7 linked regions of the Homo sapiens genome follow. The protein of the gene in region 7 interacts with the protein of the main gene of each other region in a pairwise test. Each region holds a gene or a part of one and is shown on either strand. Other genes may lie near its edges. The genes, in order: CCDC138, WAC, RIC3, MOB4, NDEL1, EBAG9 and TRAF3IP3.

Evidence for each region.
Region 1: the proteins of TRAF3IP3 (region 7) and CCDC138 interact in binary tests that used the Homo sapiens proteins (3 or more experiments, as listed by UniProt).
Region 2: the proteins of TRAF3IP3 (region 7) and WAC interact in binary tests that used the Homo sapiens proteins (3 or more experiments, as listed by UniProt).
Region 3: the proteins of TRAF3IP3 (region 7) and RIC3 interact in binary tests that used the Homo sapiens proteins (3 or more experiments, as listed by UniProt).
Region 4: the proteins of TRAF3IP3 (region 7) and MOB4 interact in binary tests that used the Homo sapiens proteins (3 or more experiments, as listed by UniProt).
Region 5: the proteins of TRAF3IP3 (region 7) and NDEL1 interact in binary tests that used the Homo sapiens proteins (3 or more experiments, as listed by UniProt).
Region 6: the proteins of TRAF3IP3 (region 7) and EBAG9 interact in binary tests that used the Homo sapiens proteins (3 or more experiments, as listed by UniProt).

The regions. Positions count from the first base shown.
Region 1 is NC_000002.12:108,873,771-108,877,078, reverse strand, and holds the end of CCDC138 (coiled-coil domain-containing protein 138), read right to left. Parts: intron 992-3,308; coding exon 826-991; 3' UTR 501-825; downstream 1-500.
Region 2 is NC_000010.11:28,609,618-28,613,117, reverse strand, and holds part of WAC (WW domain-containing adapter protein with coiled-coil), read right to left. Parts: intron 2,420-3,500; coding exon 2,297-2,419; intron 1,864-2,296; exon of another isoform or gene 1,637-1,863; intron 1,345-1,636; coding exon 1,196-1,344; intron 1-1,195.
Region 3 is NC_000011.10:8,113,526-8,117,025, forward strand, and holds part of RIC3 (protein RIC-3 isoform a precursor), read right to left. Parts: intron 1-3,500. UniProt on the Homo sapiens protein: Molecular chaperone which facilitates proper subunit assembly and surface trafficking of alpha-7 (CHRNA7) and alpha-8 (CHRNA8) nicotinic acetylcholine receptors.
Region 4 is NC_000002.12:197,540,066-197,543,565, reverse strand, and holds part of MOB4 (MOB-like protein phocein), read right to left. Parts: intron 3,456-3,500; coding exon 3,413-3,455; intron 3,216-3,412; coding exon 3,129-3,215; intron 1-3,128. Other genes in the region: HSPE1-MOB4 protein, read right to left, coding at 3,129-3,215, 3,413-3,455.
Region 5 is NC_000017.11:8,449,384-8,452,883, reverse strand, and holds part of NDEL1 (nuclear distribution protein nudE-like 1), read right to left. Parts: intron 2,105-3,500; coding exon 1,931-2,104; intron 1-1,930. UniProt on the Homo sapiens protein: Required for organization of the cellular microtubule array and microtubule anchoring at the centrosome. May regulate microtubule organization at least in part by targeting the microtubule severing protein KATNA1 to the centrosome.
Region 6 is NC_000008.11:109,557,173-109,560,672, forward strand, and holds part of EBAG9 (receptor-binding cancer antigen expressed on SiSo cells), read left to right. Parts: intron 1-3,500. UniProt on the Homo sapiens protein: May participate in suppression of cell proliferation and induces apoptotic cell death through activation of interleukin-1-beta converting enzyme (ICE)-like proteases.
Region 7 is NC_000001.11:209,773,053-209,776,552, forward strand, and holds part of TRAF3IP3 (TRAF3-interacting JNK-activating modulator), read left to right. Parts: intron 1-2,237; coding exon of another isoform or gene 2,238-2,296; coding exon 2,297-2,437; intron 2,438-2,521; coding exon of another isoform or gene 2,522-2,536; exon of another isoform or gene 2,537-2,546; coding exon 2,547-2,684; coding exon of another isoform or gene 2,685-3,072; intron 3,073-3,500. UniProt on the Homo sapiens protein: Adapter protein that plays essential roles in both innate and adaptive immunity. Plays a crucial role in the regulation of thymocyte development.

The sequences.
Region 1 (3,308 bases), on a different chromosome or scaffold from region 7:
TGAAGAGGCCCAATAGTTTCTTGAAAATTTCTTCTAACTCCTGAAACTGAGATTATACACTGATCATATATGATTTTATGACTCTTTAAAACAATGTTTCTCAGTATCCTGTCCTAAGTCCCAAGTTTTACCACCTTTACTTCACCCAGACCTGTGGCCACTTTACTCATCTTTGGCTATACCAAGAGATATCTCTGGTAACAGGACGATTATTTTTGTTTACCTTTCAATGTTTAAAAAATGTCTTGCCTTGTATATACATGCTCCAGTAATAATTATTTTGAAAACAAAAGTTTTTAAACCTGTGAACAGCATAATAAAAAACTTTTTCTATCCCACAAAGAGCACAATAAAAAAAAAATCAACATCTGTTAATCTAGGATACAGTATATAGAAAAGTTATGGTATCAAGATGATAGTTTAAAGATATACATTTTTGCTTTCAAAAGCAAGGATTCTAATATATTAGGAAAATAGAAAGACAGTATTATTTAACCCTGTTCTCACATAAGCACCAATTTTATTCCAAATAATCACATAATTTTAAGAAATAATTTTCCTAATATATTTTTACAAAAAGTCACTTCAGTGTCATACATTCTAGAAACGCCATCTTGTATATTAGTATTACCTTACCTGAACTGAAACATTCCAAAAGTTCCAATACCTTCTACAGATTTCATTTTTACAGTTCAAAAAAATTATTTATTTTTCATGATAAATGATGCTACTGATAACTTTACTTGGTAGAATTGTAGTTACTTTGGTAATTTCTACATGTTTATAAATAAGCACCACATATACTATATTAAAAAATTAGCCAGTCTAAGGGCTTGCACTGGAGACCAGGGAGTTACATTTTGTTAAACCCAGATTGAACAGAGTTGAATTTAGATTAATACAGAGAAATGCATGCTCTGGGTTTGTTGTCCTTTGTATTTCTTGAAGCATCAGATGAATCGTAAAAAGTTCAAAGAGCTTCTTATTACTCCTGTAAAAAAAATGAATACATTATTTAATTACACATACTTAGAGAGTTTATCTGCAATGACACTGACAGATAATTTATGTGTAAACATGAGGAAATGGCATCTGTTTTTAAAAACAGTGGAGAAAATAGGCAACTAAAAGATTAGAATGCTGAAACAAACAAAATAGGTTTTATGAGATAAACCTGAAGCAGAAAACCACTGGGGAAAAAAGAAAACTTTTTTTTCTTTTGAGATAAGGTCTTATTCTGGCACCCAGGTGGAGTGCAGTGGCATGAACACAGCTTACTGCAGCCTCAACCTCCCCAGCTCAAGCAATCCTCCCATCTCAGCCTCCCAAGTAGCTAGGACTACAGGCGCACATCACCAAACCTGGCTAATTTTGTTTATTTTTTGTAGAGACAGGGTGTCACTATGTTGCTAAGGCTGGTCTTGAACTTCTGGGCTCAGGCGATCCTCCTTCCTTGGCCTCCCAAAGTGCTGAGACTACAGATGTGAACCACTGTGCCCAGCCTGGAACCATTTTACAACCCTGAAAATTGCACCCTATTCACTATTAGAGAGCGTGAGAATTTTTTTTTTCACAGCTAGCAAAACAGACAAACATTTGATCATCCTATTTTGAGTAAGCAGGCCTTTTTAAAGTGGCAGAATATTGGTTTATCTTTTGACTTGGCTATAGAATACTTGTTCAACCATCCTCTTTCTAATAACCTGTCAGTAATTTCATTTCAATCATTAAGAATTTGTTTCTTTTTTTTTTTTTTTTTATTATACTTTAAGTTTTAGGGTACATGTGCACATTGTGCAGGTTAGTTACATATGTATACGTGTTTCTTATTTCCTTGTCTAGCTTTGTTTCTTATTTCCTTGTCTAGCTTTGTTTCTTATTTCCTTGTCTAGTTATTTGACAAACTCTCTTGAGAGAGTTTGTCCTAATACAAACTCTTATGTACTATCCTAATACAAAAGGATTTACATCTTTTGTGGTCTTAAAGATTTATTTTAAGATCTGCTTGAGCATCAACTATTCCCAGTCTTCTTGTTCAAGCTTTGTTTTTTTATCTAAGTCTAAAATGAACCTAAGCTACAAACACATCATGAATAGTAAAACATTTTGGCCCAAGGTTATACTTGCACTTTGGGACTACCTTTAAAAAAAAAAAATCCCATGAATTAAGAAGTAAAAAAGAATTAAATCTAAGTAATGTTATTGCAGCTTCATGGCACCATAAGGTAACTGCAATAGGCCTTACTAGGAATTTACTGAAATCAAGAGAATCACGGTATAGTCTGCAAGAAAAGGAAGACAGTAAATTGATAAATTCAGCGCTAGTAACTTGGTCAGTCAAATTATAAGGTTATAATTTGACAATAATTTATTACAATCCTCTACTAGGCATGTTACCAAATAGAACATATGGATCTCTTAATCCCTATCTACAAATAATTTCAAGATGCATTGCATTTACTACTCAAGCATATGGAAGCCTGGTAAAATCTAAATTCTCTACCACGGGAATCATGGATGAGGGGATGAGGCCAGGAGGAGAAGAGCTGAACCTAAATCAAAATAAAAATGTTACTGTTATACAAATGAGTTGAGATAGAAGGTGTCCAGATTTGCCTCAAAGGAAACACTACAGCATACCAAGAATCACGGAAAATACAACTTAAAATCGATGTCCTTATTTATAGTTTAGTAACTGGTTATACAAGTTTCTGAGTCAGGAGAAAGATGAGGAAACAAAGCCCATGATTCTCATAAAAAAATCCAAATTAGTGGCAGTAGGCAGTCCATAAGAGTTTACTAAAATAAATCCCGTTACCAAAGTAATTTCAAATCTCTTCTGCTTGCTTCATTCTCATTCCCTAAATTCACTTTAGTACATCAATAAGGATTTGCAAAATACTTTTATCTTTTTATTTTCACCTGTGGTATTACAGAATACCAGTATGCAAGAATTTATTCTGATATTATTACTTGGTTGCTAAAAACTGCTCTTACTTTTATATGAAGCATTTAAAGTTCATTTATCTGAAATGAGCTATAGAAACAACTAGATGTTCTGAGATCAGAACTCTAATTCTAGTCTGTCACTAAATATGTGGTCTTAGATCAGCGTTAGTATTTATGAATCTTAATTTTCTACATCTGTATAATGGAAATTTTTTTTTAATAATCAAAGCTTAAGTAGCATGGGATTCAGAAAGGTCTAAATCAAGCTTGTCCAACCTGCAGCCCATGGGCTGCATGCGGCCCAGGATGGCTTTGAATGTGGCCCAACACAAATTTGTAAGCTTTCTGAAAACACTATG
Region 2 (3,500 bases), on a different chromosome or scaffold from region 7:
TTTTCAAATTATTTTTGTAGAGATGGGGTCTTGCTATATTGCCCAGGGCCTAATTCAATCCTCCTGCCTTGGCCTCCTAAGTGCTGTAATTATAGCTGTGAGCCACCGCGCCCAGCCTTCTTAAAGGAGTTGAAATGCTCAGTTTACAAGTGACTATAAAACCAATACTACCACTTATTTCACTTTTAACCACTATTTACTATACTCTTAAAATGCCACCCTGAAGACAAGTTCTAAGCTCCAAAAATAACATCTCTTTTGCCAAAACTCACATTTTAATTCTTTCCTCCTTAAAATACTGGCAAATGATAAGGAACTGCATAATAAACTAACAACTGTAACTTGGAATTTTAAAAATCAATCTAAATTGACCCTAAAACATGCAATGATCAATGGCCAAGGTAGGGAAGGGATGAACAAACGGGAAGACTTAAAAGCTGACCAACCACCTCTTTCAAGTTATATTTCAATGCATTTTTATTTTTGGGCTTCTGCTTAATATCTTACAAAGAATTATTTGGCATTAAAAAGTCTGAAACAGCCCACTGTTTCAAAACTACTCAAAAGAAATTCCCCCTACATTTACCATTTAGACCAGCAATTTTCTAACTGCACCTATGGAGCCAACCATGTAAGATTCTGCTGGGACAAATACAGGCAATATAAGCTTAGTAAAATGGGTCCCTGTATTCACAAACACCTAGGTTTCAAATTCTGACTCTACCACAAAAACTTAACTGAGAGTTTGATTTTCTCATCTATTAAATAAAGCAAGTGATTCTCACGATGTGAAAGCTAAACATACATTAAGTTCTTAGCACAGAAACTGCCTCATTTTTGAAATACAAATATGGAAAAGTCACTGGAAAACATGTTCATTCATGTCTTTTGGAGTTTGAAAATTCTACAAATATTAAGACTCAGTATATCCTCTTTATCTCACTCTCCATGTGACAAATCCCAAAACCATTAGGGAACAGACTCAGATGGTTTATTAAAGTAGCACAGATTCAAAGCCCCCCTCTATCCCTCAGTGAACTGAGAAATTCTAGGCTGCATCTACTATCATACCTGTCATTCATTCCACCACTACACCTCATTCTCAGAGGGCTTTTTCTATAACAGATTCTAAAATGTTATTGACTTTCCAAAAGTAAGTAGTTTCTTTTCCGAATGTCCCTCAAAGGTGACATACCTTTGGCTGTGATGAAACAGGAGGAGTACTGATCAAAGGTTTGATAGGGACTGTGTTAGTTTGAGGTGTGCTTATTCTTGGAGAAACATATGATCTTGGGGATGACGCATCAGATGTTAAAGACATCGGAGACTGATTAGATGGCTGGGCTGTAAAAGAGGGAAGCAATTAATTTTAAAGAAAAACAAAACAAAACAAAAAACTAAAGTCCTTTGTAATATATGTGGCAAAGATATTTGTATTACTCTAAACCCCCCCACCCCCATATTACCCAGAGAACACTTATTGGAATAAATCAGAATCTGACCTTCTCACTGGGCCACACTGACTAAGTGAGCTGTGTGTTCAGAGGTAAGCACACCCAGTGTGGCCCACTCTCCTTTATGTGGCTGGAACAGGAAGCTAGGCCTGAACCTAATCTCACATGGAAGGCCTCCTCACCATCCTTATTTCTTCTTTCTTATTCTACATTTAGGCCCAGGTATCCCACGCAGTCTCCTGCTCATGAGGCTAGCCAGAGGGTTGCAAGAGTCTTTGCACCATTATACTTCCATTCCAGACAAGGCATTCCTGCTGTTTATCAGCTTTCTGACAAAGTGACCCTTTCACTTCCCATTTGCTCCTATGTGTATCTCTCTCCATTTGGATACCTTCATGAAGAGGGATATCTAATTCAAGGCAGAAAATGAGCATTTCCATATTATCCAGTCAAAAAACATCTAACGTCAATCTGAACCAAACTTCAACTCTTCAAATACATGCAATGTTTCACAAAGATATATGGCACATCATAGTTTACTTTCAGCTTTGGCATAAAAAAACTCATTAATAACAAAGTCTGAATTAAATACTGTCTTAAATAATTACAGATTTGATGGCAATACCTTAAGACAAATGTCAAAGCTTGCTTCATCTAAAAAGAAAGGAAATAAAAATACTACTGTATATGCCAGTGTTACAAAAAAAACAAAATTATTGTAGCTAATCTCTTAAAAAACTAAAAAAAAAAATGAAAGAAAAAACTAAATACAAAAAAGGGCTATTAATTCCAAAACAAAATCAAGATGCCATTCTAGAGATATCTAAGATGAGTAAGAATACCTTGTGTAGAGAGCTGAGCAGCTTGAGAAATCAGAGACGTTATGTTGAAAGCAGATGGTCCAGCAGTAAGAAACTTATGAATTATAGACTGCAGTGAGGCTTGTGTCACAGCTGCTGTAAGAACTAAAAACATATTATTTCATACATTCATATAAAAACAAGAGGCTTATGTGGCATTAGTAACAACCTGACAAGGAAGAGAACTCACAAGAAACTGGAATATTTCAACCTAGAACTCTCAAAATAAAAGCCTACTAGATAGGAGTAATACAATGGGTCCCAAATTTGAAATGATCTGAGGCAGAGAAAAAGAAACTTAATGGGTTTACAATAAAGGTAAACCAACAGAGTTTCTTTTACACTAATTAAGATGATCACCTGAACAAAGTCTCTCTACAAAATTTAACGAGTGTTCACAGGAACTTCCAATTATGTCAGAAACCTATTCATATGTGAGTGTTCAGTATGTTATATGGAATTAACTGGATAAACAACTGCTATTTCATGTGATTGCCCTTTTAGACAAGCTGGCCATTCAAATCCTATATCAAGATCCACCCTAATAAATCTAAAAATGGATACAAAAAAGGGAGTATTGGCCGGACATGGTAGCTCACACCCAGCACTTTGGGAGGCTGAGGCAGGTGGATCGCCTAAGGTTAGGAGTTCAAGAGCAGCCTGCCCAACATAGTGAAACCCTGTCTCTACTAAAAATACAAAAAATTAGCTGGGCATAGTGGCAGGTGCCTGTAATCCCAGCTACTAGGGAGGCTGAGGCAGGAGAATCGCTTGAACCTGGGAGGCAGAGGTTGCAGTGAGCCGGGATTGCACCACTGCACTCCAGCCTGGGCAACAAGAGCAAAAACTCCATCTCAAAAAAAAAAAAAAAAAAAAAGTATTTAGGAATACCATGTATTTTTGATGTGTAAGATATTTTATTATTGACATTAACTATTATTTCTTCAACTATTTATTTTGGAGACAGGGTTGTGCAATCACAGCTTACCATAGCCTTCACCTTCCAGGCTTAAGTTATTCTCCCACCTCAGCCTCCCAAGTAGCTGGAACTACAGGCGTTCACCACCACACCTGGCTAAGTTTTTGTATTTTTAGTAGAGATGGGGTTCACCATGTTGCCCAGGCTGGTCTGGGCTTAAGTGGCCCACCAGCCTCAGCAAGTGCTGGAATTACAGGCATGAGCCAC
Region 3 (3,500 bases), on a different chromosome or scaffold from region 7:
GCCCAGTGCCAAATTGGCACCCCAATGGCACCCAAATTGGAGCCTGCAGACACAGGCTCCAGGCCTGCCCAGTGCCAGGCTAGTCTCTATGACCACCCCCACCTTCAGGTTGGCCCCTGCATTCCCACAATCCAGCAGACCCTGGGTCTAGCCCAACCCAGTAGACCCCAGCATTGGGCCGGCCCTCAGAACCCCAGGACTGCCCCTATGGACCTAGGTTCTAGGCTGAGGCCTGTGGCCCCAGGACCCAAGCCAGCCCTAATGAACCTAGCCTTCAGACACATCCATCAGACTCAGCCTCCAGGCCCATTTCAGTGGACCCGGGCACCAGGTTCATCCTAGCACCTGGCCAATCTCTGAAGACCCAGGCTCAAGGCCCAGTCCAGCCCCAGGTCAGCCCTTGTGGACCTAGGCTTTGGGATAGCCTCTCTGCACAAGATACAAGCACCAGGTCCATGCCTGAGGATCCAATCAACAGGTACACCCCAGTGGATCCAGGCTTCAACCCCAACCCCACGGACTCAACACCAGGCCACCCTGCCTAAGGACTCTACCAGCAAGTCTACCTGCAGATCACACCAAATGGCCTACCCAGAATCTCTGGGCAGGCTGACTGGTGAATGGCTTTTCCGGACAAAGCCAGAATGCAAAAACCATTCACCAGCAAAAGTCCCTGCTTCTTCAAATGCACAGATACCAATGCATAGCCATGAGGATCAAGAACAATCAAGGAAACATGTTGCCACCAATGAACAAAATAAAGCACCAGGAACAGACTCTAAAGAAATGAAGATACGGCCGGGCGTGATGGCTCACGCTTGTAATCTCACACACTTTAGGAGGCCAAGACAAATGGATCACCTGAGGTTAGGAGTTCAAAACCAACCTGGCCAACATGGTAAAATCCTATCTCTACTAAAAATACAAAAAATTAGCCGGGCGTGGTGGCAGGCGCCTGTAATTCCAGCTACTCAGGAGGCTGAGGCAGAAGAATCGCTTGAACCCAGGAGGCAGAGGTTCCAGTGAGCCAAGATCAAGCCATTGCACTCCAGCCTGGGCAACAAGAACAAAACTCCATCTCAAAAAAAAAAAAAGAAAGAAAGAAAGAAAAAGAAGACACATGAACTGCCTGACAAAGAATTCAAGATAACTGTTTTAAGGAAACTCAGCGAACTTCAAGAAAATACAGAGAAACAATTAAAGGAAACCAGGAAAACAATAAATAACTAAAACAAAAAATTTACGAGAGATTGAAATTATATTAAAAAAATCAAACAGAAATTCTACAGCTGAAAAATACGAGAATTGAAATGAAAAATGCAATAGAGAGTATCAACAGCAGAACTGATTGAGCAAAAGAATGAACCTTTGAATCTAAAGACAGATTATTTGACAATATACAGTTGGATGAGAAAAAAAGAATGAAAAGAAAGCAAGCTTATGGGATTTATGGGAACTGGAGTTCAAGAAGGAGGAGACGGACACAAAGGGATAGAAAGCTTAAAGAAATAATAGCAGAAAACTATACAAATCTGGGGAAAGTTATAAATATCTGGGTACAAGAAGGTCAAAAGTCTCCAATCAGACTGAACTCAAGTAAGACTATATCAAGAAGTATTATAATCAAACTATCAAAAATCAAAGACAGAGAGGATGCTGGAAGCAGCAAAAGAAAAAAAGTACATCACATTATAAGGGAGTTCTAACAGATTTATCAGCAGAAACCTTAAAGGCCAGAAAAGAGTGGGATAATATATTCAAAATGCTTACGGAAAACAAAAACAAAAACAAAAAAAAAAAAGGTCAACCAAGAATATTGTAGTTGGCAAAGCTCTCCTTCAGAAATGAGGAAAAAACAAAGACTCTGCCAGACAAAAGCTGAAGGAGCTTATCCCCACAAGATCTATCTTATAAAAAATGCTCAAGGGTGTTCTTCAAGTAGAGAGCAAGGGACACTATTCAGTAACACAAATATACATATATATATATATGAAAGTATAGGCTAGGTGCGGTGGCTAACGCCTGTAATCCCAGCACTTTGGGAGGCTGTGACAGGTGGATCACCTGAGGTCAGGAGTTCGAGACCAGCCTGACCAACATGGTGAAACTCCACCTCTACTAAAAATACAAAATTAGCTCGGCATGGTGGTGCATGCCTGTAATCCCAGCTACTTGGGAGGCTGAAATGAAAACTATAAAACATTGATGAAAGAAATTGAAGAAGACACAAATAAAATGAAAAGATGTCCCGTTTATGGATTGGAAGAATTGATACTGCTATAATGTCCATACTATACAAAGCAATCTACAGATTTAATACAATCCCTATCAAAATTTCAATGACAATTTTCACAGAAATAGAAGAAACAATTCTAAAATTCATATGGAACCACAAAAGACCCCAAATGGCCAAAGCAATTGTGAACAAAAAGAACAAAGCCAGAGGCATCACAGTACCTGATTCCCAAATCTACTACAAAGCTATAGTAATCAAAACAGTATGTTACTGGCATAAAAACAGACACACAGACTGATGGAACAGAATAAAAGCCCAGAAATAAATCCACATATTTATGGTCAATTTTTTTAAACAAAGATGCCAAAAAATAAAACACACACACACACAGGTCAAAGGACAAACACAAAAAGGTCAAAGGACAATCTCTTCAATAAATGGTGTGGGGAAACTAGATATCCACATGCAAAACAGTGAAATTAGACCCTCATCTCACACCTCACATTTACAAAAATCAACTCAAAATGCACTGAAGACTTAAACATAAGACCTGAAGCTGTAAAACTACTAGAAGAAAACCTAGGGAAAAAGCTCCATGACATTGGTCTGGACAATGATATTTTTGGATATGACACCAAAAGCCCATGCAACAAAAGTGAAAATAGACAAATGGGATTACTGAAAGTTTCTGTACAGCAAAGGAAACAACAGTAAAGAGACAATCTATGTAATGGGAGAAAATATTTGCAAACCATATATTTGATAATGGGTTAATATGCAAAATATATAAGGAACTCAACTCCACAGCAAAAGAAAACCCAATTTAAAAATGGGCAAAGGATATAAATAGACACTTCTCAAGAGAAGACAGAAAAATAGTCAACAGGCATATGAGAAAGTGCTCAACATCATTAAACATTCAAGAAATGAAAATTTAAACCACAATATCACCACATCTGTTAGAATGGCTATTATCAAAAAGACAAAAGGCAATAATAAGTGTCAGCAAGGATGTAGAGAAAAGGGAACCCTTATATACTATTGCTGGGAATGTAAACTAGTACAGTCACTATGGAAAACAGTATACTGGCTCCTCAACAAATTAAAAATAGAACTATCATATGATCCAGTAATCCCACTACTGGATATATATCCAAAAGATAAGAAATCAGTATGTCAAAAAGATATCTGCACTCCCATGTTCACTGCAGCATTATTCACAATAGCCACACTATAGCATCAATCTGAACATCCATGAATGGAT
Region 4 (3,500 bases), on a different chromosome or scaffold from region 7:
GGTTCATCTGTGTTGTAGCATGTATCAGAACTTCATTCCCTTTCATGGTTTTATAATATTTCATTGTATGTCCATGCTACATTTTGTTTCTCCATTCTCACGGTGGTTTTTTTTTTTCCCTTATCAAGCATGGTTGTGGAGGAGACAATGTTAATCAGCATAACAATAACGCACAACCCTCGCACCAACTGTCTGTGGTTTTGAGATGTGCCTTAATAACTAATGTTGAGCATCTTTTCATGTGCTTACTGGCCATTTCTGAATCTTTTTTTGAGACATGGTCTCTCTCTGTCACATAGGCTGGAGTGTAGTGGTGTGATCTTTGCTTACTTCAACCTTGAGTCCTTGGGCTCAGGTGATTCTCCCACCTCAGCCTCCCTAGTAGCTGGGACTACATGTGCACACCCATCACACTCAGCTAATTTTTTGTATTTTTAGTAGAGATGGGGTTTCACCATGTTGGCTAGGCTGGTCTCGAACTCCTGACCTCAGGTGACCCACCTGCCTCGGCCTCCCAAAGTGCTGGGATTACAGGCGTTACTGTCTTCGAAATCCAGTATTTATTTTGTGTTTACAGCATATTTCAATTTTGACTACCCACATTTCAAGTGCTACACAGCTACATGGGGCTCATGGGTTACCACATCACTGTATCTTTAGACCTTTAACTGGTTTCTGAATTTTTAATTTGGATGACATTTTGCATTGTTTTTAGCTGCCTTCCCTTCACCTTCCCCCAGTTAATTCTCAGGTAACTATTCCTACTCTGTAACAGTTATAACAGCAAAAAATGGCAAAATATAGCAGGTTACAAAATACTATGTAATGGTGTTTACAAATTTTTATGTATTATATTTTTCCAAATATATAATCATAATGCTACTGCAAGTGATCACAATCAGCATGTGACTGTGAGGGCTTGTAGACAGTAAGTTATAATGTTTGTCGCCTAGAAGCACTATTTGTATAATTTACTCTATATGCTGAATGCCTCTCTTTAATTCTCAAGGATACTGAATAAATGATTATTGGTGCTAAGTATTCTGCTGCTCCCACTTCAGAATCTCCCTAGTGATTTTAATCCATGAGAGCAATTTTCTTAGCTTAGTTTGTCAGTTCCTATAGTTTCCTGACTAAGCAGTTATTCAAAAACAGTTCAGAAAGTGTCCTTTCAAATTGTTCTTTTGTTTGTATTTTTACAGTAACTCCACTCAATATAACTACCACTTGGAAATCCTACTATCACCCTCCCTTGACACATGGCCAGTTCAACAGATCTGGACTTCAGCAAGCAATGCTGCAATTCTAAGACTCAATTTACAGGTCTTAATGCTAATGACTATCCTGTCATTTAATATTAATCAAGAAAGAAGTGGATATGAGAATGACAGTATATTTAAGAGTCATAACACATCACAAACTGGATATCACTTCCACTCTAAAGAAAGAATAATACATCATTACTATTTGCCAAAACAAAACTAGCCTTGATTCAGCCTTCTTGATTCAGTTTCCTAATTGCAATAATCACATCATTCACTACGTTAAGTAGCCAACTTCAGTGAATTATCAATGAAACCACTATGTGGATTTTCCCAGATGTAGACAGATACAATCTTTTTATTTTTTTTATTTTTTATTTTTTTTGAGACGGAGTCTCGCTCTGTCGCCCAGGCTGGAGTGCAGTGGCGGGATCTCGGCTCACTGCAAGCTCCGCCTCCTGGGTTCACGCCATTCTCCTGCCTCAGCCTCCCAAGTAGCTGGGACTACAGGCGCCCGCCACTACGCCCGGCTAATTTTTTGTATTTTTAATAGAGACGGGGTTTCACCGTTTTAGCCGGGATGGTCTCGATCTCCTGACCTCGTGATCCGCCCGCCTCGGCCTCCCAAAGTGCTGGGATTACAGGCGTGAGCCACCGCGCCCGGCCGACAGATACAATCTTAATACTGCTTCAATTAATTAACATAAAAATGTGACATCCTGAATGAAACCAGTCTTCCAAATAAGTACTATTCTCTTAGGTATCAAATACTCCTTATTTTGGAGCATTTGTCCTTTTTGAAACAAAAAACATCAGATATTGATTTTGCAACTAGGGCCTCACTTGTCTTCAAGCCTTAGAAGTCTATCAATATAATGACCACTTCAAGGTCTATGATTCTACAGAATTGGCCTAACCCAATATCCCCAGTGAGTCAGTGTCAAGTAAAAAGTAATTATAACAGATTAAATGGGAATACAGATTAAGGGAAAAGCAATGCATAAACAACCCAGATGTAAAGACCATTTTGGAGACAACTAAGGAAAAGTATACTGGGTATCAGATGATATGAAGAAATTTTTTAAATAAGAAAAAGTACAGTAGGCCAGGCACAGTGGTTCACACCTGTAATCCCAGCACTTTGGGAGACTGAGGTGGGCAGATTACTTGAGGTCAGGAGTTTGAGACCAGGCTTGCCAATATAGCAAAACCCCATCTCTACTAAAAATATAAAAATTAGCCCGGCATGATAGCGCATGCCTGTAATCTCAGCCACTTGGGAGGTTGATGCATGAGAATCTCCTGAATCCGGAGACAGAGGTTGCAGCGAACCGAGATCATACCACTGCACTCCAGCCTGGACAACGGAGTAAGAATCCATCTCAAAAAAAAAAAAGAGCAAAACAAAAAACTGCTACTGCCTATAGTCTTACCTTGACAAAAACTAAATAAGGAGAAAAACAACATGAATATTTAAAAGCTCAAAAGTAACATTTCTACTTAAACTAGGCATCAGAGTAATCAATAGTTCTTCCTATCAAAAGAAATAATCTGAACAAAAACCTAAACAGGCGTATCTCAATCATTACACAGTAGATATCAGCACAATGTGACAGATGTTAATCCGTAATAGCCAGTGGATCATGAAGTGAGTTCTAGCCCATGTAATTGCCCAATTATGAAAAATGATGCTTATCATAAGAAATCCTAAAATAGCACTGCAGTAACAACTTCACAACAAGCAACTCAAAATGAAATAGCAAAATGAACAGTGAACTAAAAACCCTAAAAACTTGTCTAACATTGTCTTGAGAGAGATTTAGGCTATAATAATTTTATTAGTTACTCTATTTCATAAATCCTCACCTCTTTTGGAGTTTTATGAGCTGCACAAAGAAAAATCCATTGTTCAGTTGCTGTCATTTGAGTGCAAGTATCTGGATGGCATTCACTCTGTTAAAAATAATTATATTTCTTAATATGTAAAATAATAATGAAAAAGCTTATCATTTAGGTTACTATATTTCCATAATAAATTCTAGAAGAAAGTTAGAAATGTGGATACGTTTTTGTAAGCACATTAAGTTATAAAAACAGAGAAAAAAAAATCAGAACTTTCAATTATAACTTTGACTTAAAGAAAATATTACCTGAAGTTTGACAGCAAGTCCATTTAGCTCAAGGCAGAACTGCCTGAAAATGCAAATACATAAATAAAAAGTCATATCTATTCTTCAC
Region 5 (3,500 bases), on a different chromosome or scaffold from region 7:
CCTGTAATCCCAGCTACTTGGGAGGCCAAGGCAGGAGAATCACTTGAACCCAGGAGGCGGAAGTTGCAATGAGCCAAGATCGCACCATTGCACTCTAGCCTGGGCAAAAAAAGCAAAACTCTGTCAAAAAAAAAAAAAAAAAAGAGAAGAAAAAGAAAAGAAAAGAAAGAAAGGAAGAAAGAAAAAGAAAGAAAGAGAAAGAAAGAAAGAAAGAGAAACAAACATTGTAAAAGGTAAAATACAATTAAAGACAGACCACTTCAGAAAGATCAGCTCTAAGATCTTACCGATTTCTCTGACCACCTGCTGCTGCTCACAACTCTGTGCTTTCTTGTAATGAAATTGCAGTGATCTAGTACACAGCAGCTTTTAGGTTAGCCAGTGAAAATTCATGCTATTGGTTCCAGCCTAAAAACATATCTATTAAGCAAATATTACTGCCATAGGGTTGGCACACCTCATGCCGTGCCACAGCAGGCTCCATGTCCTTTTGACTCCCCAAGTCCCTGAATGAAAACTCTAACGGGCTATTAAAAAAAAATGTGCACCACCTGTGGGTGTCACCGCACCTGAGGCTTTTCACTATTCTGATTCGTCTTCAATTAAAGGATTTTCAGATCTGCATAATTCTAATCAGTAACATAAAAGTAAAACTTTGTTAGTCCTCAGGTGTAATTGTGAAATCTTCAAATATACAAGCAGCTCTTCTGAAAAACTGACCGTGAGGGCTCCTGATGACTGCTAATAATCTATTGCCTGCCCTTTGTCCTCAGCAGTAAACCTAGCGCAATTAGTAACACCTTACAACCATACAGCACCTTCACATACCTTATCTGATATCATCTCGTAACAAGGCAAAGACAAGTTGAATTACCTACTCAAGGGTTACTGAGCACTTGAAATGTGGTTAATGTGACAAAGAAACTGAATTTTATATTTTATTTCATTTTAATATAAATTTAAATAGCCACATGGGCTGGTGACTATTGAGTAGCACAGACAGAGAGAGCTCACTGTACTAGTTGCCCACATAGCATTCTAAAAGATAAAACCCTATATTTTAAAAAGGGTGGGATGACAGCTTCAATATAGGGTGGAAAAAAAAAGCAAGGGGGGATGAGAGTAGCAGAAATATGAACTACGAGCTGCAAAATCTAAACAAATCTCAATTGAGAGCTTTAAGATTCCATTTTAAGGTTCTATCTAGTGGCTACTAGGTGGTTTTTCTGCTTATCCGGATTTTAAAAAAACACACTGGTTCATGGCAATGTGAGTATTCTGTATGTGCCAATCATCAATTACTCCGAACAATGCTTTTGAAAATGGCAGCTCCTGAAGCATGTAACAGAATGGGCATGTCCATCCAAGCCGGTCTTACATGAGTCTGAAAGATAACTTAATGATTCTCTGTACATTCTATGTAGAAAGGCCTCAGGTCTCCCATGATATGGAAAGTGGCAAAAGGAAGAAATAAAACTGTGTTTAAATATGATCCCCAAATTTGCATGTGACAAAGAGATGTGCACAAACACACACAAGCACACAATAGAAAAAAAAACTCAAAATGTTAATGGTGGGTGCCTGTAAGTGGTAAGATAACATGATTTTTATTTTCTTTTTCTGTGTTTTTAAAATTTTCTACCTAAACATACGGCTGTAATCACAAAATCTATTGCTATCATCAAAAAATAAACTTTCCTTAAAAACCTTTAACTTTTAAAAATCTCATCTTAAATGTAACCATCATTTCACTGTTTCCTATATATTAGTGGCCTAGGAAAACAATTCCTTCTTCTATTTCACATAGCACTAGACTTCACCAACTTTTAAACTAAAATTACTCTTTAAACCTTAGCAACCGCCTTCAGCAACAAACCCCCGTAAGCTGATCATCTAACACATCGCCTCAAAAAGAAAAGACATTACAAACCTTTCGGTGAAGGAAAAGTGTTCTCCGTTCCTTTGCCAACAGGGGTAGCTGGCAAAGAAAGTGATGCTTGGACGGCGGAGTCCATCTTTTCACAGTCTAGAGTTGGAGAGCTAGGAGCCGACTTTCTAGTTACTTCCTGTTGTCTTTCCCGAACTGCTAGTTCTTGCCTTAAATCTGTAAAATATTGCAAACAAGGGCAGGAATACTCACTAGAGGGAGCAAATATATCAAGCAAAGTGACATCTAAAATGTCATAAAGGTCTTCTTCCTAAATTACTATTTCTCAAAAATGAATTTCCTATTTAAGTATAACTTTCATTTCTAGGGGAATAAAAATGGCAAAACTACTGTCTAAATGATCTTTTAGAATTTAAAAATGCTATAACCTGAGAGAAGTTACTTATGCTTATATGCAAAAAGAAACAGTGCAGAGTCCACAGTACAATTCACACAAAAGTAAATATTCTTCACCAACTTATTTGCTTTTATTTTCAAATGATGTAGTTTTGGGGTTATTGCAAAATCAACTAAGTGCATTTTTGTAATTTTAAATGGGCTGGCATTAACTATTATCACTATGAAATATTTACTTTTAGAAAAGAAGTATTCAGAACGGTTTAAATTTTTCTCATGCTTTCAAATATTGAGCGTTTTTTTTTTTTTTTGAGACGGAGTCTCACTCTGTCGCCCAGGCTAGAGTGCAGTGACGCAATCTCGGCTCACTGCAACCTCCACCTCCTGGGTTCAAGCGATTCTCCTGCCTCAGCCTCCCAAGTAGCTGGGATTACAGGTGCCCGCCACCACACCCAGCTAATTTTTTTTTTTGAATTTTTAGTAGAGATGGGGTTTCACCATGTTGGTCAGGCTGGTCTCGAACTCCTAACCTCAAATGATCCACCCGCCTCAGCCTCCCAAAGTGCTAGAATTACAGGCGTGAGCCGCCACACCCAGCCAATGTCGAGTTTTTAACCCAAAATTAATGTTATCTTTTCCAATTATGCAATTTAACTTACAGAATATTTGCTTGTGTTAAAAAAGGAACAAAGTCATCCCCCTTTTGGGTATGTATCCAAAAGAATTCAAAACAGGATCTCAAAGAGATATTTGGACACCCATGTTCACAGCGGTATCATTCGCAATAGCAAGAGATGGGAGCAACTCGATGTCCATCCACAGATGAACAGATAAAGAAAATGAATACATACAATGGAGTATCATTCAGCCTTAAAAAAGAAGGAAATTTTGTCACATACTACACATGGATAAACCTTGAGGACATTATGCTAAATGCAATAAACCAGTCACAAATACTGTATAATCTCCCTTATATGAGGTATCTAAAGTAGCTGAACTCATAGAAAATAGAACTGTGGTTGCCAGGGGCTGAAGGGAAGGGAAAATGGGTAGTCACTATTCAATAGGTATAGTTTCAGTTTTGCAAGATGAAAAAGTTCTAAAAATTTGTTTACACAACAATTTGACTATACTTAACACTACTGGACTGTACACTTTAAAATGATTAAGAAGCCAGGCACAGTGGCTCACACCCATAATCCCAACATTTTGGGAG
Region 6 (3,500 bases), on a different chromosome or scaffold from region 7:
GATAGAAGTTAATCTGGAGTTTTACCAATCCTAACCTTTTATGAGATTGTAAATTACCTTAGATACTAAGATCAAGGTCTCATTGTACACATGAAAGATAGAGATACAATGTTATTTAAAAATATAAACATCAGAGAGATTACCATTAAAATGAGAGATTAACCCTAATGGTAGATTATTTTAAAGTGAGTTATGAATTGTTTTCTTCATAGAGTGTATTTTCATTCAAAGTATGACTTAATTTTAAACGGTTTGACTTAAATGAAACTTTTTAAAGGAAAAATTTATGAAACAAGTAGACAGCTGAGGTTCTCAACCTTGGGAGCATATCAGAATCAGCTTTGGAGGTTTTTTAAAAGCACAAATGTCCAGACCCCTCCCTACCTAAGCTTTAAGCATGCTTTGATTGATTGATTATATTATCTGTTGTTGTGTAACAACTCCAAATTCAGTGACTTAAAATAATTACAAATATTAATGTAACACAGTTTCTGTGGATTGGGAATCCAGGTGACTAAACTGGGTGGTTCTAACTCAGAATTTCTCATGAGTTTGCAGACAAGTCATTGGGTTGGGGCTACAATCATCTGAAGGCTTGATTGTGGTCGAAGGATTCATTTCAAAGACAGCTCACTTCTACACCTGACAAATTAATGCTATTTGTTTGCACAAAGCCTCAGTTCCTTGCTGTGCACCTCTCCAAGGAGCTGCTTGAATTTCTTTATGATGTAACTCCTGATTTTCCCAGTAAGTTATAAGACGGTGAGAGCACTTGCTCATGGGTGAGGGTGACACCACAATGCCTTTTTGTGATGTGGTTTTATAAGTGATACACTGTCACTTCCATGTTATTTCATTAGAAGCCACTAAATCCAGCCCACATGCAAGCCTCCACCTCTTGAAGGAAGGAATGTCAAAGAATTTGTGGACATATTTTTAAATTACATCTGTCTGTCAATCTATGTATTTTATTTGTTTGTTTAAACTGCACAGTTGCTTCTGAGGTCCCTCTTCCCAGGGGACCCATGTATATGTATGTTTTTAATTCATTGAGTAAAAACACTGTTTTTACTAAAGCCAGGCCCTGTGGCATTAAAGGGTCTTTGCCTCAGAAAAATGCATTCTAGTAGGGGAGACATGATATTAAATGAATGATCACACACGTCAATATAATTACAAACTTTGATAATTCCTATGCAGTTACACGATGCTATGAACACATAACACCATAAATACTTAGCTGAATAACATAGCATTATAATGTTTTTTATTTTATATATCTCAAAATTAAATTTTATTCATAAATGTTTGATCCATATTGGTGAAATGCTTTAATCCCACCCACTGAATTAGCAATATTTGCCACCTAAATATAATTATAATACTATCATAGCTCATTGTAAAGTTTTAAATATACAACTACTTACAGAGTTGAGAAGGGGTAAATAGGGTAGATGGAGAATGTCTCCACTGCTATTTCCACGTATTTTCCTCCCAAGCAGACAGAATAAAGGGGCATTGCATAGGAGAGGATGGTAACCTATTGGACTTTGTTTTCTATACCAAAAATATCTTACCATTCATTCTACAAATTAGATTCTTCTTTTAAACTACACATTTTATTCTTTTCTAGAATTCATCATTCGTATTGTTGTGAGAGTTCTTTTATACCAAAGATAAATGTCATGTTTTATACTTTTTTAGTTTGTTAATTGGTTTGGATATTTTTGTTGGGCAGGTGTATTTAGTTTTTATGTAGACAAATCTATCAATGGTTTCCCCCTTTTCCTTTTTACTAAGGCCATCTCTACTAAAGGATCAGATACCACCCTTTTTAATGGTCTCTATAGTTTTACTTTTTAAAAAAAATCTAAATATTTTATGTACTCTAACAGTCAAATACTTTAGTGGAAGAATAGATAATATGAATGGGAAATTTACAAATAAGAAATAGACATAACCTAATTTGAAGAAAAGCTTGATCTTATTAGTGCTCAAAGTAGGCCCAGTGAGGTGTTACATGCCTGTAATCTCAGCACTTTGGGAGGCCAAGGCGGGCAGGTCACTTGAGCTCAGGAATTCGAGACCAGCCTAGGCAACATGGCGAAATCCCCCCTCTACAAAAATTAAAAAGTTAGCTGGGTGTGGTGGTGCGTGCCTGTAGTCCTCGCTACTTGGGAGGGACTGGGGTAAGAGGATTGCTTGAACCCAAGAGGTCGAGGCTGCCGTGAGCTGTGATCACACCACTACACTCCAGCCTAGGTGACAGAGTGAGACCTTGTCTCAAACAAAACAAAGTAAAATAACAAGATACAATTTTAAATCTTGTCAAATTAGTAAAGATAGAAAAGAAAGCCAGCCGAGTGCAGTGGCTCACACTTGTAATCCCAGCAATTTGGGAAATTGAGGCAGGAGGATCACTTGAGTTCAGGAGTTCAAGACCAACCTGAGCAACATAGCTAGACCTCATCTCTAAAAAAATGTAAAAAACAATCAGCCAGGTGTGGTGGCATGTGCCTATAGTCCCAGCTACTAGGGCAGCCGAGGTGGGAGGATCCCTTGAGCCCGGGAGTTTGAAGCTGCAGTGAACCATGATCACACCATGCACTCCAGCCTGGGCAACAAAGTGAAACGCTGATTCCTAAAAAAAAAAAGGGAGAAGAAAAGGCAGGATTTCTACCTACTGCGGTCAAGAGGATAACTTGGTACTTTTCAAGGCTGTCATTTGCACTTTGTTTCAGTAGCTTTAAAAATCCTCCTTTCAGAAATGTATATTAAATAATTAGAAATATTTTAAGAATTTTTAACAGAGTATGGTATTACATATATTCTCAGGAGAAGAAAACTCAAAACATTCTATTTCATTTTTAGGGGTAAGTATTTAAAACAATATGATATTAAATAAATGTGTTCACAGATTGGTACCAGTTATTTTACACACAGTCACTTCCACACCTACCTAAACAGTCCAGCATGACCATTTTCATTGGTTATTGAAAGAAAACAGTGAACTTTTAGAGGTCTGGCTTGGGAAATAGAGGTAGGGACCAGTAGATGATACCAGGTAAGAAAGACTGGGAAAAGGAAGCATGACCTAGAAGTATTTCATTAAAGATAAATTTTGCATGATTTGTCATTTTTGCCTAGGATTGAGACAGTAAGTGCCAATAAAAAATCTCCAGTAAGTTACATATGCTTAAATGAAGAATGACTGTGCTAGTTTTTGAACTTCAGCTCGCAGTTCTTCTCAGCACAGATTAGTCCAGTCAAGGATTTCTAATTCAGTCTGGGATCAGTCAGTTTCTTGTCACTCTATCCCCAGCTCCCTCATCTTACTGAGGAGAGAAAGAAACAAAAGACATGTTCTGTTCTTGTTCCTTCCAAAATAAAGTACAGCAAAGAAGAGAATTTAAGAGAGTATCCCATGAAACATAAAGAAGAAAGCTGGCCTTGCCTAGGACTGTTGAACACTGAAAGTCATACATCAGTTCTAGGCAAGC
Region 7 (3,500 bases):
ATCTAGAATTAAATGAGAAGAATGTTTTTGAACCTCAATCTTACTTTCGAGAAACACCACCAGATAGAGAATAACACACCCATTCCTACTTACCCATTTCTGGCTTGGCCATTTACACTTTAGTCTCTAATTCACTAGATCACTGTCTCCATCCTTCTTCCTCTCCCTTTCTCCCAGTATCCTTCTCTTTGCACCCTGGAGGAATCCCAGCACTAACCAGTTTGTCAGCTCCAGGGGAACCTTGAGAATACCTGACACTGTAGGGGAAGGCCCTTGGTAAAGACTCACATCACCCAGACAGCCCTTTACGCATCCTAATCTTTGAACAGATGAGTTAGATGTTATAATGAAGTCTTACAAAATTATTTTCATTCCATGGGTAACTTTTTTCTGTTTTTTCTAGCAACCCCTGGAAGAATGTAAAAGCTCTTTTACTTGGCTCTTCTGTAACACCATTTTCCAGCATTAGTAATCTCTTGATTGGCCTAATCTTGGTTTATAAGAGATAGAAAGAAATCAGCTTTCACATTTGAGAAGTGATGGATACCTGACAGGTGGGAAGATATCAAATCAGAGAATGGGGTGAAACAGGCAGAATTCTCCCATCTGGAGTTAGAGAGAGAAGACAGTCCTGGCCACATTGATGGCGTCTTACAGGGGAAGAGAGTTTATGGAGTCTATAAGTTTCTTGGTCCACAACTTTCATTTTTTCAGTATAACTTGCTTTGTCAGGACTAAATAATGCCAACCAAGTTCACAGGAGACTAATATATAATCCAGAATGCCAGTCTATTCATTTTCAATAGGGAATAACACATAACCAGTGCCCAGCATGGATGGTCATTGGATGTCCAATAACTGGGACATCCCCTACATATGACCTCAACCAGGTTAATTCCTGGATCTGGTTTTTAATGAAAGTTCCAAAACTATAAGACCCACTCAAATTTAAATCCAAAATTTCAGACAATTCCAAAGCTAAATGGAAATGATTTCATATTGATCCCTAAATTGTTGTCATCTGGTCTACTGCTTACACAGTAGGTAATCCAGAATTGACAATAAAATCTGCCTGCCTTCTCCGAAATCACAGGGCATAAAGATGAAAGAAAGGGAGAAGGCAAGACCCCCAGTGAATTTGCAAAGCTGCGCTTGTGTCTCCTTAATCCTGCAGCCAGGAGGAATTTTATAATGCAAATGTATTAATTTTAAAACATGAAGTTCATTAGGCATTGTAAAGAAGCTACAATGATTTTTTTTTAAAGCAGCAGCAGTATGCTCCCTCCCTGAAGGAGTTTACAATCCAGTATGAAAGACAGATGAGTCAATAGAGTAGAATAATAGAGGCATGCAGGGGATACTATGTGAACACCATGAACCCTAAGAAAAGCTACCTAATCCATAAGACATTGTGGGATGGGGGTAGTTGGTCAATTTATCAGAACTGATGATACTGGACTGAATCTTGAGTATTAGTAGAAGTTAACTGGCTGTAGGCAGAAGAAGCTACATGGGTAAAGGCAGAGCCCCAAAAAACAGAGTGCTGGGGGATCTGCAAACATCTCAGCTTAGGTGGAAGTAGCATGGGATGAAAGTCTAGGCGTGTAAGAGGAGCCATGACAAGGAGTTTGGATGTGATTCTTAGTATGCTGAGAATCCATGGAGAGATTTATACAGGAAGTGGCAAGATCAGATTTGCATTTTAGAAAGAACCCTCTAAATGCAGAACTGAAAAGGGACTGAAGGGAGGCAAGATTTGAAGAAAGGGAGGCTGTTGCATTAATCCACATAACACTACTACTAGAGCCTGAACTAAGGAAGCAGCAGTAGGGATAGAGAGGAGACAGATATGAGCTGTTAAGGAAATTGTCAAGGCTCAATGACCAACTGATTAGAGGGGGAGGAAGTGAGAGAGAAAATGAAGATTGACTCCCTGGTTTAGGGTTTGGAAAAGCCTGGATGGATGATGATTCTGGTCACTGAGATAGGAACCCCAAGAAAAAAGAACATGTTTAGAAAGATGAGTCCTGTTTAGACATCTTGGATTCCAAGAGCTTGCAGAAGGCCTCAGATATAATGCCCAGGAAGCCTAGGGCACTGTTTATTATGCCCTCCACTCATCTCTCATTGCCTGAGGGACTCTTCTTGCTAGCTCTACCCTAAAAGAAATGGCTCACTAGATTACTGGTATCTCTGCCTGGGGGAAGAACCAACTTCTTTTCATTTCTGTATCCCAGCTCAGGATTTGGCACACAGAAGCTCAATGTGTATTTGTTGAATTGCATCAAATTTACAGAAATACTCCCCTTGGGGAATGAAAAAAGTACTACTGGAGATGGAAGACCAGAAAAACAGCTATGAGCAGAAGGCCAAGGAGTCACTGCAGAAAGTGCTGGAGGAGAAAATGAATGCAGAGCAGCAACTACAGAGCACACAGGTATGGGGATGCCACATAGACATGGGGCTGGGGACTCCAGGCAGCTTGGGGAACAAGGGGAGCCAGCTGCACAACTCCCTGGAGCCCTCTCCTCTCTGATCTCCCTCAGCGATCCCTGGCCCTGGCAGAGCAGAAGTGTGAAGAGTGGAGGAGCCAGTATGAGGCTCTGAAGGAGGACTGGAGGACCCTTGGGACCCAGCACAGGGAGCTGGAGAGCCAACTCCACGTGCTTCAGTCCAAACTGCAGGTACCAGGCACTGGGGGTGGGGAGGGAAGACAGGGTATGGGGAGGAGGGATGGTGATGAAAGAAGCTGTTCTGGATTAGGGACTCCAAAGGCAGCTGACAGCATCTGGCTTTCAGTTCCTCAGTCACCACTACTTTGTACCAAATTCACTGTTTTGGCTCTGAAATCTAATTTTGAGTTTAGCAAGGATGTCTGCATTGCTCATGCAAATGAACTAAGCGTTCATTGGAATGACACCATCACCACCCAAATGAAAAGAACTGGCTGGAATATTCATCAGCCTACTAATGTCATCTCCCAACCCACTCTCCAAACTCCATCCCAAAAAAGCATCCAGTTCAGAATTGCCCACTGTTGGCAAAGAAAGAATGTCACTAATTTATTTACAGGTGAGTATTAACACTTTCTGCCAATGTGTATTTTAAGCAATTACATTTAGCAATTACAATTAGATTCTTGGCATCCTCAAGGGTTCCATCATCTTCAATCTGTCCTAAGCCTCAGTTTCCCCATCTCTAAAATGAGGATAATAGTACCTACATCATAAGGTGGTTCTGAGTATTAAGTAAGATGATCCATGTAAAGCACTTAGCACAATGCCTGGCACACAAAAACACTCAGTAAATATTAGCTATTATTTTGCATAGATTTATTTACCTGGTTTGGAATTTTGAGGATCCACCTCAAAAGCTGATCTTTGTAATTTTCCTGAAGCAGGGCTCAGAACAGCCCACTTGATAAGAGACAGAGTATGTGAGTCTTATCAAAGGAGTGAACCCAGCTGGTCACTCTGCGTGGTATCCACAGCTCAACCTTT